3 separate regions of the Homo sapiens genome follow, and all the other regions are linked to region 3. The links come from fine-mapping of genetic effects on gene expression. A gene starts in region 3. Each other region holds a variant in brackets. All regions are shown on one strand. Distances are between the middles of the regions. Region 1 overlaps CDH23 (cadherin related 23). Region 2 overlaps CDH23 (cadherin related 23). Region 3 holds the start of C10orf105 (chromosome 10 open reading frame 105).

Evidence for each region.
Region 1: its variant is fine-mapped to the expression of C10orf105 in whole blood (TOPMed, PIP above 0.99).
Region 2: its variant is fine-mapped to the expression of C10orf105 in whole blood (TOPMed, PIP above 0.99).

What each region holds. Positions count from the first base shown.
Region 1 is chr10:71,749,459-71,754,458 of GRCh38, forward strand. All of the region lies in intron 38 of CDH23 (cadherin related 23), which reads left to right. It overlaps VSIR (V-set immunoregulatory receptor), which reads right to left. Exons shown (of 7, transcript NM_022153.2): 5 at 3,517-3,544; 6 at 2,210-2,403; 7 at 1-1,832. The coding sequence ends at 1,795. Among named protein-coding and RNA genes, the nearest start is that of VSIR, 22 kb to the right of the region's middle. The variant G/A (reference allele first, on the strand shown) is at 2,443.
Region 2 is chr10:71,741,374-71,746,373 of GRCh38, forward strand. CDH23 (cadherin related 23) reads left to right here. Exons shown (of 70, transcript NM_022124.6): 38 at 321-548. Among named protein-coding and RNA genes, the nearest start is that of C10orf105, 24 kb to the left of the region's middle. The variant T/C (reference allele first, on the strand shown) is at 2,445.
Region 3 is chr10:71,716,791-71,721,790 of GRCh38, forward strand. C10orf105 (chromosome 10 open reading frame 105) reads right to left here and starts at 2,988. Exons shown (of 2, transcript NM_001164375.3): 1 at 2,837-2,988. The region is part of intron 28 of CDH23 (cadherin related 23); the gene reads left to right. RefSeq lists a silencer at 263-460 and an enhancer at 2,377-3,125.

The DNA of each region.
Region 1 (5,000 bases), 33 kb after region 3:
ACCATGGCCAGCCAGCACCCTCTTCCTATGGCAGCTGGCATCAAGCATTGTGGTGACCAGAGGGAACAAAAGAAGGGACCCCCCTCTGCCTAGGGACAAGGGAGAAGCCGGGGTTTGGGCATATTCTGGCCACTCGAGGTGTCAGCCCCATCTCCGGGCCTATGTTTACCCTCTCCTCAAAGCCCCTGGCCCAGCCCAGGCAGAGCAGGAGGCCCTCAGTGGACCATTCCTTTGGGCCTAACTGGGGGGCTTAGAAGCAGGGCCATGTGTCCAGGTGGGGTTCCCTGGCTGTAGCCACAGGCCCAGGGCTCACTGCTGCCAGGCAGCCTAGAGGTGCTCCCCTTTTCCATCCCCCCAACCCCCCAAGCAATTGGGCGAACATCTTCCCGCCTAGCCCCAAATCCTGGCTTTCAGCACCCAGGCCCAGCTCAGCAGAGCCAGTGTAGGCTGCTAGGAGACAAATGCCCAGGCTGGACTATGCTCTCCACAGTACCTGGGGCCCCCATCCTGCTAAACGCTACAGGGGGTCTGCCCAGCCCCACCTCACCTGTCCCCATGCTCAGGCACTGCCTTCCCTGTTTTACCCCCAGAGTGTACAGAGATGCCCCCTACTCTCCTCCCCTGCTTTAAAATCCTTCAATCACAATTCCACAGAGGACTCACCTTGCCTATGTGTATAAAAACAAAGCCAGGGCATGCCCACAAGCAGGAGATGGGAACATCACCCGCACCTGGCCGAATGGCTCTGAAGCGAAGACTCCACCAGGCCCAGATTGTATGGAGTGGAAGGTGGGGGTGGGGGAGGAGCAGCAGAGTGCAGATTTAAACTGGCTCTTACAATCCATCTCCAGGGTTTGCACCTGTTTCCCCATGTAGTTTTTAATAGCATCCCGCTTCATACTCAGAAGTGTCCCAGGGTGGACAAGACATTGTGTGGCACCCTTGCAATGGCCCGCGCTGAGCAGTGGGAGTAGGGGATGGGGAGGGCGGGGGGCAGGTGCCCCTCTCCACTCACCTTCCCAGAAGGCCCCACCCACCTCCCTCAGCACCATCTCCAGTGGGTGGGGCAACATCTGTCCTGGCCTCAGATTGCCCAAGACACCATTTGCTCACGGAGGCCACCATGCCCCAATATGTACTTCCCGTTTCGGGACCACCAAGCTCTGGGGACTGGAATGCAGGCAGTGGAAGCCCCAGATTGACTTAACCTGTTGACAGATCTTCAGAGAAACTGCTGGTAGGAGGCAGCTGGGGAAGGTGGCGATGGCCAGTGGGCAGGCAGGCCTGGCCCCAGAGCCACTGTGGTACAAAGAGGAAGTCTGACAGAAGAGCAGCCTCGGGCAAAACGGGGGAGCCAAGGCGGCCACGGGGGAGAAGTCTCTCCACCGTGCCCTGTGTCTGGTGCCTGGGAGGGTGGCCCAGTGTCCATCTTGTCCCACTGATGCTGCCACATCCCAAGGCTCATGTCTCAGAACGAGAGCTGCTGAAGGGCTGGACGTTCTGAGACTTCTTAAGATGTAAGTCATTTGGCATCTGTAGCTGGTGAATTTCAGGTCTCTAGGGGAGAATCTCAGCACCCCAAAATCCTTGGAACAGGGGCTGAGCCGTCCAGCATCCCCATGTAGCATCCAGAGGGGTTGAGGGGCTGGGCTTCTGGGATGTCACAGTATCTGAGCCCAGAGCAGGAGGGAGGGAACCAGGGCCGAGGCCAAGGAGGCCACTCACAGAGCCAGCCCTGGCTCAAATGCACCTGCCCCAGACCCAGCCACAACAGCCCACTGTCCCCCAGCTGGGCTAGATGACCTCAAAGTTTGGAGAGTCAGGGACAGGGTCTGCAAGAAAAGGAGAAGCAAAGTGAACGGGGCCCCTCTGCCCCTCACCCTCAACCCCACCCCGTGAGGCCGTGGAACTCTTCAGGGAGGTGAATGGGGGCCCCTCTGTCCCTCACCCTCAACCCCACCCCGTGAGGCCGTGGAACTCTTCAGGGAGGTGAATGGGGGCCCCTCTGTCCCTCACCCTCAACCCCACCCCGTGAGGCCGTGGAACTCTTCAGGGAGGTGAATGGGGGCCCCTCTGTCCCTCACCCTCAACCCCACCCCGTGAGGCCGTGGAACTCTTCAGGGAGGGCAGGGAGTGAGGCCGATGCCCTGCAGGCCATGAGGTCATGACCTTACAGGTCATCGTGCTGTGAAGGTCAGGAAACACTTACCCAGGGATGGGAAGAAGACGTCTCCGGGGCCTGGAGGAGACAGGGGGGTGCTGGGCTCCGAAAGCAGATGCCGCCCAGACTCAGAAGGCTGCCGCTGGGCCACATAGGACAGGGGGTGCCTGACTTTGGCCTCGGGTATCCCCTGGGCAGGTGGTGAGGCTTCAAAGCCGGGGTTTTCAATCCCTTGAATGTTGCTGCCACAGAACCAGAATGGAAGGTCATCTGTGCTGTCC[G/A]GAGCGTGAACTCTGCCCTCCCTGCCCCCAGTTTTTCTCTCCTCCCTTTCTCTCACCTACATCCCCATCCCCAAGCCTCAGCAGCATCTCCAAGCAAGAAGGCAGGAGCCAGGCCCACAGAGCAAAGGCCATGGGCTGCACCTGCCCACCTGTCCTGAGCTGAGGGCATCAGGGCCCACCAGAACAGACCCCAGCTCCTCCCTGTGGTCTGACCATCAACCCCGGGCACAGCCAGGAAGCCAAAAATCACAGACACTTCTAGAACTTCAGCCTCAGGAATTTGGGGACAAGTTTCTCTTTGGTCAATAGAGTTGATGGCATTAGGATCGAACATCCCCAAAGCCTGTCTTGAGCTGAGGGGAGGGGTTCTCTTCTCTTCCCAGTTGGGAGTGGGATAACTTCTGAAGACCCCTGCAACTCTTAGATTCTAGATGAGTTGCAAGCAGGACTTCCTTCAACCTGTCTTGAAGATCATCCCTTTCAAACACCTAGAGGAGCTTTGTGTTTGGTGTTGCAGGTACCGGGGCAGGAACTTGGGTTCCCTGAACACACCCTCCAGGCCAGGCTGCATGGCAGCTTCCTGCCCAGAGCACACCAATACACAGTCCCCATCCCCTCTGCCCCTAGACCCAGCCCACTGCACCACTCTGGGACCCCTCAGCCTCTGCCCTTGTGGCCTGCAGCGGCCTAACAGCTTTCTCCTTGGAGTTCTCTGCGGGCAGGAGGCACAGCTCAAGGGCTGTGGCTGGGGCTGGGCCCGCTGGCCTCCTTTGCATGTCTCACTGTCTGCCCCAGACAGTGCTTCCTCCCTGTCCCCATCCTGGCCCAGGCTGACCACTGAGACCCGAAGGTGGGTGCATGACACATCTGAGCAGAATCAGAGCTCAGCCTGCTGAGTCGGGGTGGCAGGAGAACAGCCAATCTGCACAGATGTGCAGGCTTCAGCAGCAGATGGCAGAGGCTCTTCTGACCAGCTGCTCTAGGCAGCTAAACAGGGCCCCTACTGCACAGAAGTATCTCTTCCTGGATAGCCGGCCCAGGAAGTTTTCTCAAGAAGGTCTCCATGGGCCTTACCTGTCCATCCGCACCAGCTCCTGGGCACCTAGGGACAGACAGACAGAGAAGCTGGTCATGGAAGGGAAGGCTTCCCCATACAACATCCCTGCCCCTGCTGGCAGATGCCCTGCAGGGAACAGGAGCGAGCCCAGGAGGGCCCTGCACAGCTCCGGACTCCATTTCTTTTCACATGGGTGCTGTCCAGCAAGCGATCTGCGTGTCTGTCCAGCAGATGGGGCCTCCATGAGGGGCCCATTTTGACGACTGATAAATGAAACTCTATCTGCATTTTCCAGGAGTGTAAGAACGCTATCTGCCATCAGGAGACCAAAGGCAGCCAGCGCTTTCTCCTATGGCTTGACTTACACAGTGTCAGACCTTCAGGATTTAAGTATCGAGCAAAGGTCAACTCTTGAATTTGCTAACTGGTGTCTCTTGTTTGAACATTTGCCAGGTTCTGGTCTTTAGCCATGACTTACTGGGTGGGAGTGTTTAAGGTCAGTTCCTAATTAGAGGGCTCCTGGTCCTCTCTGTCCTATCCCCTACATTGCCTAATAGGGTGGCATTCTAGGGGACATCTCTCAGGGAAACCTTACAAGGTGCAAGTCCCCGATCACTTCCCAGCCACTTCACTCACTTTCTGCTTCTCATCCAAGTTGCTGCCGCTTGCCTCAGCCTTGGGACACCCCACCCCCCAAACTGGCCACCAATTAGATGCAGTGACCCCAACTTCCCTCTTTCATGCAGCACCCCATGTCCTCCCACAGATGCTTCTCGTTTTAAGGAGATTTACTGCTGATTACGATGGGGAAACAGATGGTGGGGGAGGGGCACAACAACAGAACAAACACAGGGAAGTTACCCAAAAGTTCCTGAAATCTATTCAAACCATGGCTATTGCTTACAGCCGACTCATGGGTCAGGCTTCGTGCAGGTGCACACGGGTATTCCCTCATCTCATCCTCTGTGCCACCCTTTGGGGTGAGGGTTGTTGGTCCCATTTTAGAGCTGGGGAAACTGAGGCTCAGTCCAAAGCAGGATGGAAATCCACACCTGTTGGCCTCTCCAGCAAACTGCCGTCCTCAAGGCTCCCAGCCCTTTCCTTTTCTTTTTTTCCTGAGAGTGCCTCATTCCTGAGCAGGCTCTCTGGGCCAGCCTTCCACCAGGGAGGGCACAGCAACACCTGCTCCCCCTGCCCTGCTGCCCAGCGTTGCTCTTCTGTTCCAAGCCCTTTACCTGCCCCCACCCACCCCCAGCCATGGGTATTCCTGCAGGTAGGTTGTGGTGTGTTCTAGGAGAGGAATAGGGGAGTTCTGAAAGCAAGGGTGAGGTGGCCACAGCCCCCGAGTGACCCACTATGGGGCTTCACGTGGGGGCCCCCGGGAATGAGGGGAGGGAGGGATGACAAGTTGTTAAGGGCCGGCCACAGGAAATAAGTTGCGAGCCAAAAGCCACCTGGCACCAGAGCAATCCTTTCTCAGTTACCTCTGTAGCCAGGCAGA
Region 2 (5,000 bases), 25 kb after region 3:
CCCACTGATTGGCTGTGTGGACTTGCACACATTCCTTCCCTGCACCTCAGTTTTCTCTTCTGTAAATGAGGATGATGATGCCAGTACCTAACTCACAGAGTTGGAGAGAGGACCCAGTGAGTTAATGCAGGCCCCAGCATATCAGAGGTGCTCACAGAATGTTCGCTGCTATCATCCTTATTATCTCCATCATTGCTCTGGGGTAGATGCAGCAAAGCTTTTGGGAGGTACAGGGGGAGCCTTCGGGCTACAGGAGCAGGTGCCAGACTGTGCCCCAATGCCTTGAGTCCAGAATGACTGCTCTCCTGCTCTCCTCCCAGAACGTGGGTGGAGGTACTGCTGTGGTCCAGGTGAGAGCCACTGACCGTGACATCGGGATCAACAGTGTTCTGTCCTACTACATCACCGAGGGCAACAAGGACATGGCCTTCCGCATGGACCGCATCAGCGGTGAGATCGCCACACGGCCTGCCCCGCCTGACCGCGAGCGCCAGAGCTTCTACCACCTGGTGGCCACTGTGGAGGACGAGGGCACCCCAACCCTGTCGGTGAGCGATGGGGGTGGCCACAGGGAGGAGCGGGTGGGCCAGGGCAGCTCCGCCTCCGAGTGAGGGGAACAAGATGGGTGAGAATGGAATTCCACACAGCAGGCGAATCCTTGACAACTCCTTTAGTCCATCTGCCTTTAGTCCATCTGCCCAAGATGGCCTCCCCTTACGGAGGCCTGTTGCGTGCAAAGCTGGGGTGCTAGTTTGGCCTCCCGAGTCTATAGCTACTCAGAAGCTCTGTTTAGTCCTCTTTTCTCTCACAGAGCAGCTCTATGGGGTGGTACAGGTTGAGCCTCTGTATTGGGGCCTGGCCCAGGGAGCAAGTGGGTATGAATCTAGCCCCCGCTTCACTTGCCCACCTATGCACTGTGAGGTCACACCAATGTGCATGGTGGTGTCTTACAGAAAGGGTGCCTCTCTGGCCCTCTTCCCCTACATTGTGTGGTGTGGCATGCTGTCACAACACGTCAGGGTGGGAAGGGATTCGTGTCTGTGGTTCACACTAACGCTCGAATGAACAGCACCACTGCCCAAGGCAATGTTCAAAGTTTGCCAGGTGAGGGAAGGACTTGTGGTCCTCAAGGGCTGGATGGAGATCTCTAGGAGCTGATGAGCTGTGTTGGGAGTGGCTTATAAACTGAAAGCAGGGAATTTGGAGTCAGGAGCACTGTGGCTGGCTGCATGATCTTGAGCAAGTCAGAACCTCTCAGCATATCGCTTTTGTCATCTGCAAAAGGGAGATAATATCTACCTCATAGGTGTTGTTTGGGGAATCAAATTAGCTCATGTCTGTGGAAGCACTTGGTAAACCATGAGGAGGAAGAGGACTGTTATTAGTTCTCTATTGCCACAATAATGCTGCCTTACAAACCAAACAAAACAGAGGAGTAAAACAATAACCACATAGTTAGCGCTAATTCTGCAGGCTGGCAATCTGGACATGGCTTAGCCGGGTGGTTCTTCTGGTCTCAGCTGGGCTTCTGCATTTGTATGTGGGCAGCTGCCTGTCAGCAGGGTGCTATGCTTCTGAGGGTTGGCTCGCCAGCAGCTGGGGTGACAGGGACAACTCATCCTCCAGAAGGCTAGCCCGTGCCTGTTCTTATGGGGCTGGAAAGTGTCCAGAAGAGACAGCAGAGGCGTGCAAGGCCTCTTGAGTCCCTGGCTTGGAACTGGCACAAGGTCACTTCTACCACAATCTGTTGGCCAAAGCAAGTCACAAGGCCAGCCCAGACTCAAGCTATGGGAAAATAAACTCTACCTTCTGAAGGAATGAGCTACAAAGTCACACTGCAAAGAGTGTGGTTACAAGGAAGGTGAAGAGTTCAGGGACAGTTTTGTAATCTGTCTCCTGGAAGGACCCTGATTGCAAATGAGGCCCCAGCTCTGTCCCTCTCATAGCAGGTTAGACCTCTCCCCTTTGACAGCAGCACTGTGGGAGGTGGGGTCACACCAGGTCTGGGCAGGGCTCTTTGTCTGGAGCTTCTCTGGAGATGTTGGTCCAATAACTCCAGGAATTGGGATTGGGTTAATAATCCAGGAATCCCCACCCCACCACAACATTCTGAGGAGTCCAGGAAATGAGACTGACTCTGGGCACCCCTGTGGGCATCCTTAGCCCCATGGCTGCACAGTGTCATCACTAGCCACCTCAGCCATTCACACCCAGTGGGCTAAACAAGGATACATTTATAGGACACGTGTCACTCACTGGGCAGGGTGGGGCTGGGGCAGAGAGGGGTATCATTTATTGTGTTAACGTGGGAGGACCCAGTTTCGACATGACCCCACCCCACTGCACTTGGCTTCAGGGTGGATCATCTTGGTCGTCCCTTCAATAGCATTTGTGAAGTAACAGAAACTGACTATGGAGTCATAAAGAATCAAAATGCATTTTCC[T/C]ACAGAGCAAAAATTCTACAGAGAATGTGGATTTCAGGCTCAGAGGTGTCAGAGCTCATGTTTCTTGGCCTTTCCCTCATGGTGGCAAGATAGCTACTATAACTCTAGGCATCAAGTCAGCATCCAAGGCAGGAAGATGACAAAAAGATGGCAAAGGGCTATGGCAGCTACTTCTGCCCTTTTATCAGGAAAGCAACAGGTTTCCCAGAACCACCCTCCAGAGTGCTGCTTGTGTCTCCTTGGCCAGAAGTGGCTCACGTGGGCACCCTAGCTGCAAGGGAGGTTAGAAAAAATGAGGGACAGGATTATCATGGTCAGCATATTACTTGGGGGCCAGATATATCACTTCCCACACAAAAGCAGGCCTCTGTCAGTGAGGAAGAAGTGGAGAATGGATTTGGGGTGGGCATCTGACAGCATTTGCCACACTGCCCTCCCCAATCCTAATGCAGGCCAGTCAACGCACCACCCCCACTCCCCACCCACACTCCAACCCCCACAGTCCTAGGGTCTCTCAGGGAGACCATCGGTGGAATCCATAACATTCTAAGACCCTGCAGTTTGTAGGCAAAATCAGGCTTCCTTTGGGTCCCCAGAATAAATGGGAATTGAAGAAATGGAAAATCACCCTGGCCACAGTTAATCACCCAGAATGCATGGGCCACTATCCAAGCAATCCTTTAAAATCTTGGGATTGGTCCCCATGGCTAAAAAGAGTTTCCATCTGCTGGCCAAACCCTCTGCAGGGACCCATCCCACCCCTTGGGGAGCATAAGCATTCCCACCTCACATGTCAGCCCCTGACATTCTGGTTCTCACTGAAGCAGGGCTCAGCCCATACCAGCTCCCCGGTGAGAGCAGGAGAAGCTGGGTAGCATCCGCCCTGCTCATCCTGGTCATCACCAGCTCTGCTCCCTGAGGCCCCAGAAAACACCCTCAGGATGATTAGGACCAGGGACCCTGAGGCCATCCATCTCCAGGGGAATATATATGGGGCTTCCTGGGCTGAACCATGATGCTTTCTTCCAGACCGTAATATAAACAGCAACAGGTACCAACTTGAAAGATGTATAGGAAAACAATTTTAAGTCGAAAAGAATCCATCCATCTTCAATTTTTCCCCCTGCTTCTCCAAGTTGGGAAAATATTGCTATCATTTGGTTTTTGCAGGGGACACCTCAGTGAAGAATTGCAGTGACCATAGGGACATAGAGAAACTAGCACTAAACCATATTTATTCATTCATTCACTCATTCACTCATTCACTCATTCATTCATTCAGCCATTGTCCCTGAATGGCCACTATGTGCCAGGCACTGGAGATACCGAAATGAAGAAAATGTGGTCTGTGGCCTGAAGAAATGAAGTTGAGTAAGGGAGGCAATGAAAACACTGGTGTGCAATGGGGCACTGAGAAGGGCTTGGGGAAGGCTTCCTGGAGGAGGTGACACCTGGGCCGAGTCTTGTTGGTCAGTCTTGGTTAGCACAGCCAAGAAAGAAGCATATTCTGGGGTTCAGCCTGCACAAAGGCTGAAGAGCAAGCAATAATCAGGGATGGGTTCTGGGAGCCACAGGTGGTTTAGGCCCGGGGCTGCTTCCAAGGCCAAGGGCAGGACTCTCTATTTCCATATCCTCCCGGGACAGTGTATATGGGACTCGCCATAAGAGCTGCTCCCGCTGCCTTCTCAAGACCCCCCCTCTACTGCCTCCATGCCTGGCCGAGCCAAGGTGGGGATGGGGCAGAGCTAGCAAGCAGGGGTCCTGCAGCCCACAGTGCCTACCAGGGTAGCTTGCCTCCAAGGAGCACTGGACCCTTGAAGATTTGCTTCCACTGACCAGACCCTCAACTTTGGGCAGTAAACCCCTCAGGGTTATGAATATCCCCAAGAGCAGAGCCCTTCTCTGCCTCTGGGCAGATTTCACTGGATGCGTGTATGAGGAAGGAGCATTGTCCCAGCCCCTCCTAGAGCAACCAGAGACCTGAGCAGCATGCAGCCAACCACCCTGAGATTCCAGGAATGGCTGCCACAGTCTAATGGGTGAGACAGCAGCTGCTACCCTGCATAGATCCATCCAGAGAAAGCCAGCAGGCCCACTTGCCATCCTTTTACTCCCACTGCAGTTATCTGCCTGGCTTCAAAATGGCCTTCACTGGCTCAGGACCAACCTTGCTGGAGGACAAGGGCATGAAAGATTCATTCATTTGTTCATCCAACACCAAGTATGTGTTATGTGTGAGGCCTGTAGTACAGGCTAGGACACCAGAGATACATCAGGCACAGGTCTGCCCTCCAGGAGCCTACGGTCTGGCAGGGGAAGGCACATGTACTGGAGAGCTGACACTGTGATGTGGTAGAGTGCTAGGAGCCTGGAAGCCAGGGCAGGTTTTCTGGAGGAAGCATCATTTGCATCCCTGTTTTGAAAGATGTGGCTCCCTAAGCAGGGGGCCTGAGATTTGGCTGCTAAGACCCTCCCCAGAGCCAAGAGAAATTCTCTGAGTCCCTCCAGCTCTACTTTTCTCCCTGAGACCCTCGTCCCCCCAGGTTCCTGAGAGCT
Region 3 (5,000 bases):
CCCACGGGTGTGTTTAGTTGGGTCCTTGCCATGTTTTTATCAATGTAATTATGAATATTTTCAAAATAATAACAGATTTCACAAAAATATATGGGTGCCTGAATTCTCTTGAAATGTCAGAATTTCACCACTGGCATTGGCCCATGTTCCTGCCTCATCCCTGTGTCTGGGGCTGAGCAGCCGCTGCCCCCTGTAGACAGGGCACTGACCTCCAGCTCCCCACCCTCCCCCACAGGCCCACCACACACCTTATTTCACCTGCCTGGCCCCGTGGGGATTCCTGTGACTGCTTCCCCATGCAGTCCAACTTGCTCCCACGACAGGTGGGAAACTGAGGTCCGAAGAGGGGATTTGGCATTAGGGAGCCAGTGAAGGTTTTAGAGGTGGGGAGTGACAAGCCAGAGCTCACTCCTTGGGAAGGCTTGGCTGGCTGCATTGTGGGTCACAGTAGGGTGGGGTGGGGCAGCTTGGTGGTGGGAAGGCCAAGGCCACATTGTGAGCCAATGGCCAAGTGAAGGTCAGAAGCAGGTCTCCTGACTCCTGGCCCCATGGCCTTGCCACCCCTCTGGCCCCCAGCCCTTTCGGAGCTCAGTGAGCTGCTCTGGGAACAGGTGGGAAATAAACCCACAAGGAGTTGACAAGGGGGCTGGAAACCCCCCAGGGACATCATACACCTGACAGGGCATTTCCTTTCCCACTGAAGATCATCCCATTAGACGCAGTGCAGCAGACGGTCCTTGTCGATGGAAAACCAGGCTGAGCTTTTGGCTCAATATGTCTGGGGTTGTAATAAAAATGCTCACAGATCCTGGCCAGCAGATAACACATGACCAGAGGGTACAGATGAGCAGGGCCACCTGGAGAGCACTGGCTGGGCCCTCTCAAGGAAGTGGAGGGGCCTCAGCCCAGAATGGTGCTGTCAGTGCCGGAGTGCAGGCCCAGTGTGGTCAGCTCTGTCAGTTTCCCAAGAGAAGCCAGAAATCTGGATTTTTTTAAAGGCAAACATTCTAGACGTTTAAATGTTGGCAGCTAATTCAAATTTGTTGAAGGCAAGAAAGAAGAGAGGTGGGGTGGGGGAGAACACAGCAAAAGCCAAATAAACTTGATTTCAAAATAATGTGAAATGAATTTTCAAATATTTGAAACACTACACAGGCCAAACCAAACACATAAGCAGAGGACGTCCAGCTTGCAGGTCAGCATGTGTGATATTTAAATTCTACTGACGTGGACAAGCAATCCCAGGGGGTCTGATAAAAAGTCATGATTTCCCTTTAACCTTGGGGTCTTTCCTTTTCATGAGGGTGGGGGATAGCAGATTTTCCTCCTTCCCAGCTTGCAGCTTAGATAACAGTTGAGTTTCTAGCACGGAAGCTCAGGAGGAGGAAAGATGTCAGGTCACGCTCAGAGAAACCCTGCCACAGGTAGTGGGGAGGGGAGTGGGCCACCTAGTTCCCCACCCGAGGGACTCCTGTCCCTACCCCAGGCACTCACCAGCAGCCGCAGGACCTCACTCCTGGCTCCCTGCGCCCAGCCAACTGAGGGCATGCAGAGCACCCCACCTCCCACCCATTCCCCACCACCACCCCTCCCAGCACTTCCAGGCAGAAAACGACCCCTCCCAGTGCCTGGCTGGAAAGTGTGATGCCCGTCTAGCTGCCCAGGGCCTCCGCCTTTGCGGCATCAGGCCTAGAGAGCACTCTGGCTGGGCAGCTGTGCATGGGTTGGCCTTTCCTTGAGTCTGAGCAGGGAGGAGGGATGGGGTGTGCCCACCGCTCATTCCCGTGGGGAGAAAATCAGCCATCCCTCTCTCCTACCCTGGACAATGCTTGGCCAGGAGTAAGAAAAGGGCAGTCTGAAATGGGAGATGCCTCAATCCTACTAGTTCTAATGTTATTTCAAGGCCTTCAAAGGAATCTGGAGACCCTACTGGGCTAGCAAATAGGATCCAGGCTTCAGGCCTTGGGACCTGCTTTAATTTAAAAAATAAGTGAGGCCAGGCGTGTTGGCTCTCACCTGTAATCCCAGCACTTTGGGAGGCCAAGGCAGGAGGATCACTTGAGCCCAGGAGTTTGAGAACAGCCTGGGCAACATAGTGAGTCTTCATTTCTGAAAGAAAAAAAAAAAAGGTTTTTTAATTAGCCAGGTGTGGTAGTATGTGCCTGTGGCCCCAGCTACTCAGGAGGCTGAGGCAGAAGGATCATTTGAGCCCAAAAGTTTGAGGCTACAGCGAGCTAGAATCATGCCACTGCGCTACAGCCTGAGCGACAGAGCAACACTCTGTCTCAAAAAAATAAAAAATAAAAAAAAAATAAGTGGAGTTGTAATTAGCATCTGAGTAGTTCCTGTGGCAACGAGAGATTCCTAAGTGCTTGAAAACAACACAACACCCTTCCTGGAGCACGAGGCAAGTCCAGCTGCCAGGCCCCTTGACACCCGGCTACTGACCAACCAGCAAAGGCCAGCTAGTACTGGGAGAGGATGCCTTGCCCGGACCAAGGCCAGGAATCATCTGGAGGGCAGTTGAAGCCACTCCCTTCCCACTGGGGCCAGGGTGCACCAGCGGGCCCTGCTCTGGACATATCTCTGCAAGCTCAGTCTAGGACCCTCCTCTTCCCTTGGAGTTCCACAGAGCAGGACCTGCTGTGGGCAGAGAAGACTGCTGTGTGGCCTCGGGCTAGTCCCTACCCCTTACTGGGCCTTGTTTCCCCTCTCTACAGAACCAGAGGACTGCCTAGGTCTGAGCATACCCTCACATTCTCCCAGGAGTCCCCAGCAAGGGTCTCCACCACACTTCCCTCTCCAAGCCTTCTCCTGCAGTCCCCCAAGCACTGACCTCAGAGCCAGACCCCAGCCGTCCGGAGCTCCGTGGAGAGGTCTTCTCAGCTGTGGAAGGGAGGCCCAAGGAGCCCTGGGCAGTGCCTGTGACCCCAGCCCTGCCAGGCTCTGCTGTGCCCTGCAGCCCTCGGTCAGCCTGGCCAGCAGAGTGGCCTCCCCGTCACTCCCCAGCTGGACCTGGCTTTGTCTAGAAGAGTTTGGGCCCTGCCTTGGGGGAGGGGATAGCTAAGGGAGTAGGGATGGCAACTGGGTTGGGAAGAGGGAGAGGGGAGCTGTCCAGAGACTCTGGGATGCCCCCTGGCCTTCCCACCGCCTCTCTCCAGCCTGTCTCCTTGGAGCCCTCTCAGGGGTGGAAGACTCTGGGGAGACGCAGGGGGAGGGTTTTACTGCCTCTGCGGCCCCATGGCGCTCACCTTCCCCTGTCGGAAGTTTGAATGGTATGGTCGGCGGCAGCCAGAGGTTCGCTATTCAGTGCCTGCCAGCCACCAGGTTACCCTGGAGAGGGGCTACAAGCCATGGCAGGAGGGGAGCAGGGAGAGTGCTGGTCCCTGGCAGCCCCTGAGGCCCCTCCTGCAGCGTCCCTGGGCCCCATTCCTTCCAGGCTTTTCCCTCAGCTTGTAGAAAAGCACCTTCCCTTTGAAGGTGTCTGGCTACAGAAGCGAGGGGTGAGGGGCATCTTCAAAGGTCAGGGGGATCCCAGGGCAGAAAGCATAGGACTGACGGACCTCCAAGGCCATGCTCCCCACAGTGCGGGTGGGCCACGGGAGACCTCCACTGGAGGCTCTTTCCAAAACACACACACACACACACACACACACACACTTCCCTCCCCCAGCCTTCTTTCTCCCCAGAAGCCAGAGCTTCCCTGACAACCAGCTGCCTGCTTAGGAGCCCAAGTCTTTGGCAGCTTCCCCACCAGGGACCTCCAAGCTCCCAGAAATGCAACTCAAGACAGGAGTCATGGCCCTGTCCAAGACCTGAGCCTCAGACCCATTCCCTTTTTTGGAGCCCCAGTTTCTGGTTTTTAGCTGTTCCCTCCTGCCCTTGCCCATAAAAAGAGGCACTGTCTGCCAACCCCAAGATGGACAAGAGATTTCCTATGGACTGTTAAAGCTGGAGAGGTCCTCAGGGGTCATCTAACTCCTCTTCTGAGAGAAAAGAGCCCCCGTCTTCTCTCAGATGACCAAACTGAGGCCCAGAGAGGTGTGACCTGCCCAGGGGCACCCAGCAAGTGAGTGGTGGGGGACTTGGTGTTTCCCCTGTGCTGGGTGGGCAGGGGCAGGCAGTAGGCATCCAGGGTAGGCAAAGCATCCGGCCCAAAGGTGTTTTCAATGCCCAGAGTCCCCATTGGGATTCCTGCACCTTCCATCACAGCATTCACTGCCTTCATTTTCCTTAACTTCCTCTCCTGAAACCAACTGAACACTTCATCTGTGGCCCCCATTCCTCCTGAGATGACAGAAGACAAAGCTTCCAGGGTGGTGCAGGCTGCTGGAGCAGGGAGGCATCAAGGAAATCTCACCATGGATAGGCATGCAAGGGCATGCTCTGGGCAACGTGGCTCTCTTCACCATCCTGAGCCCTTCCAGATCTGGACAATTGAAGCACCCTGTTACATCCCTCCACCTGCCAGCTCCTAAGGTTTCTCAGGGAATGGAGAGAGAAAGAACTGCACGGCAAGGGGCAATCCAGCCATCCCCAGCTCTGGCATAAATCCAGAGGGCTCTCTGGAGAAGGTGGCATCACTCATGTTGACCTTCACCACACATCCCCATGCTAGGCACCAGCCAAGACGCTTTGCAAGATGACTTCTGATCTTCCCCTCAACCCTGCAAGGCTGGTCATCATTGTGCCCAGTCTAGAGATGAGAAAACTGAGGCTCAAGGGGGCTAAAGTACTTATCCATAGTGCCATAGAGAGTAAGTGACAAAGCCTAAATTCATGCTTGGGTGTGCCTGACCCAGGGCCCTTGTTCTTTTTGCTCCAGTGTACTCGTCCTCCTCCCCACCATCAACATGCTCATCAGAATCCTTAGACACACTTACCGCAGTGCCCGGATGTGCATCGAGGCCAGCGCCTGCTACAGGCTCCTCGCTCTGCCTTCATACCACCATGTCTATACTCCCTGTCCTGTGGAGGTTCCAGGGCATCAGTGCTGCTGA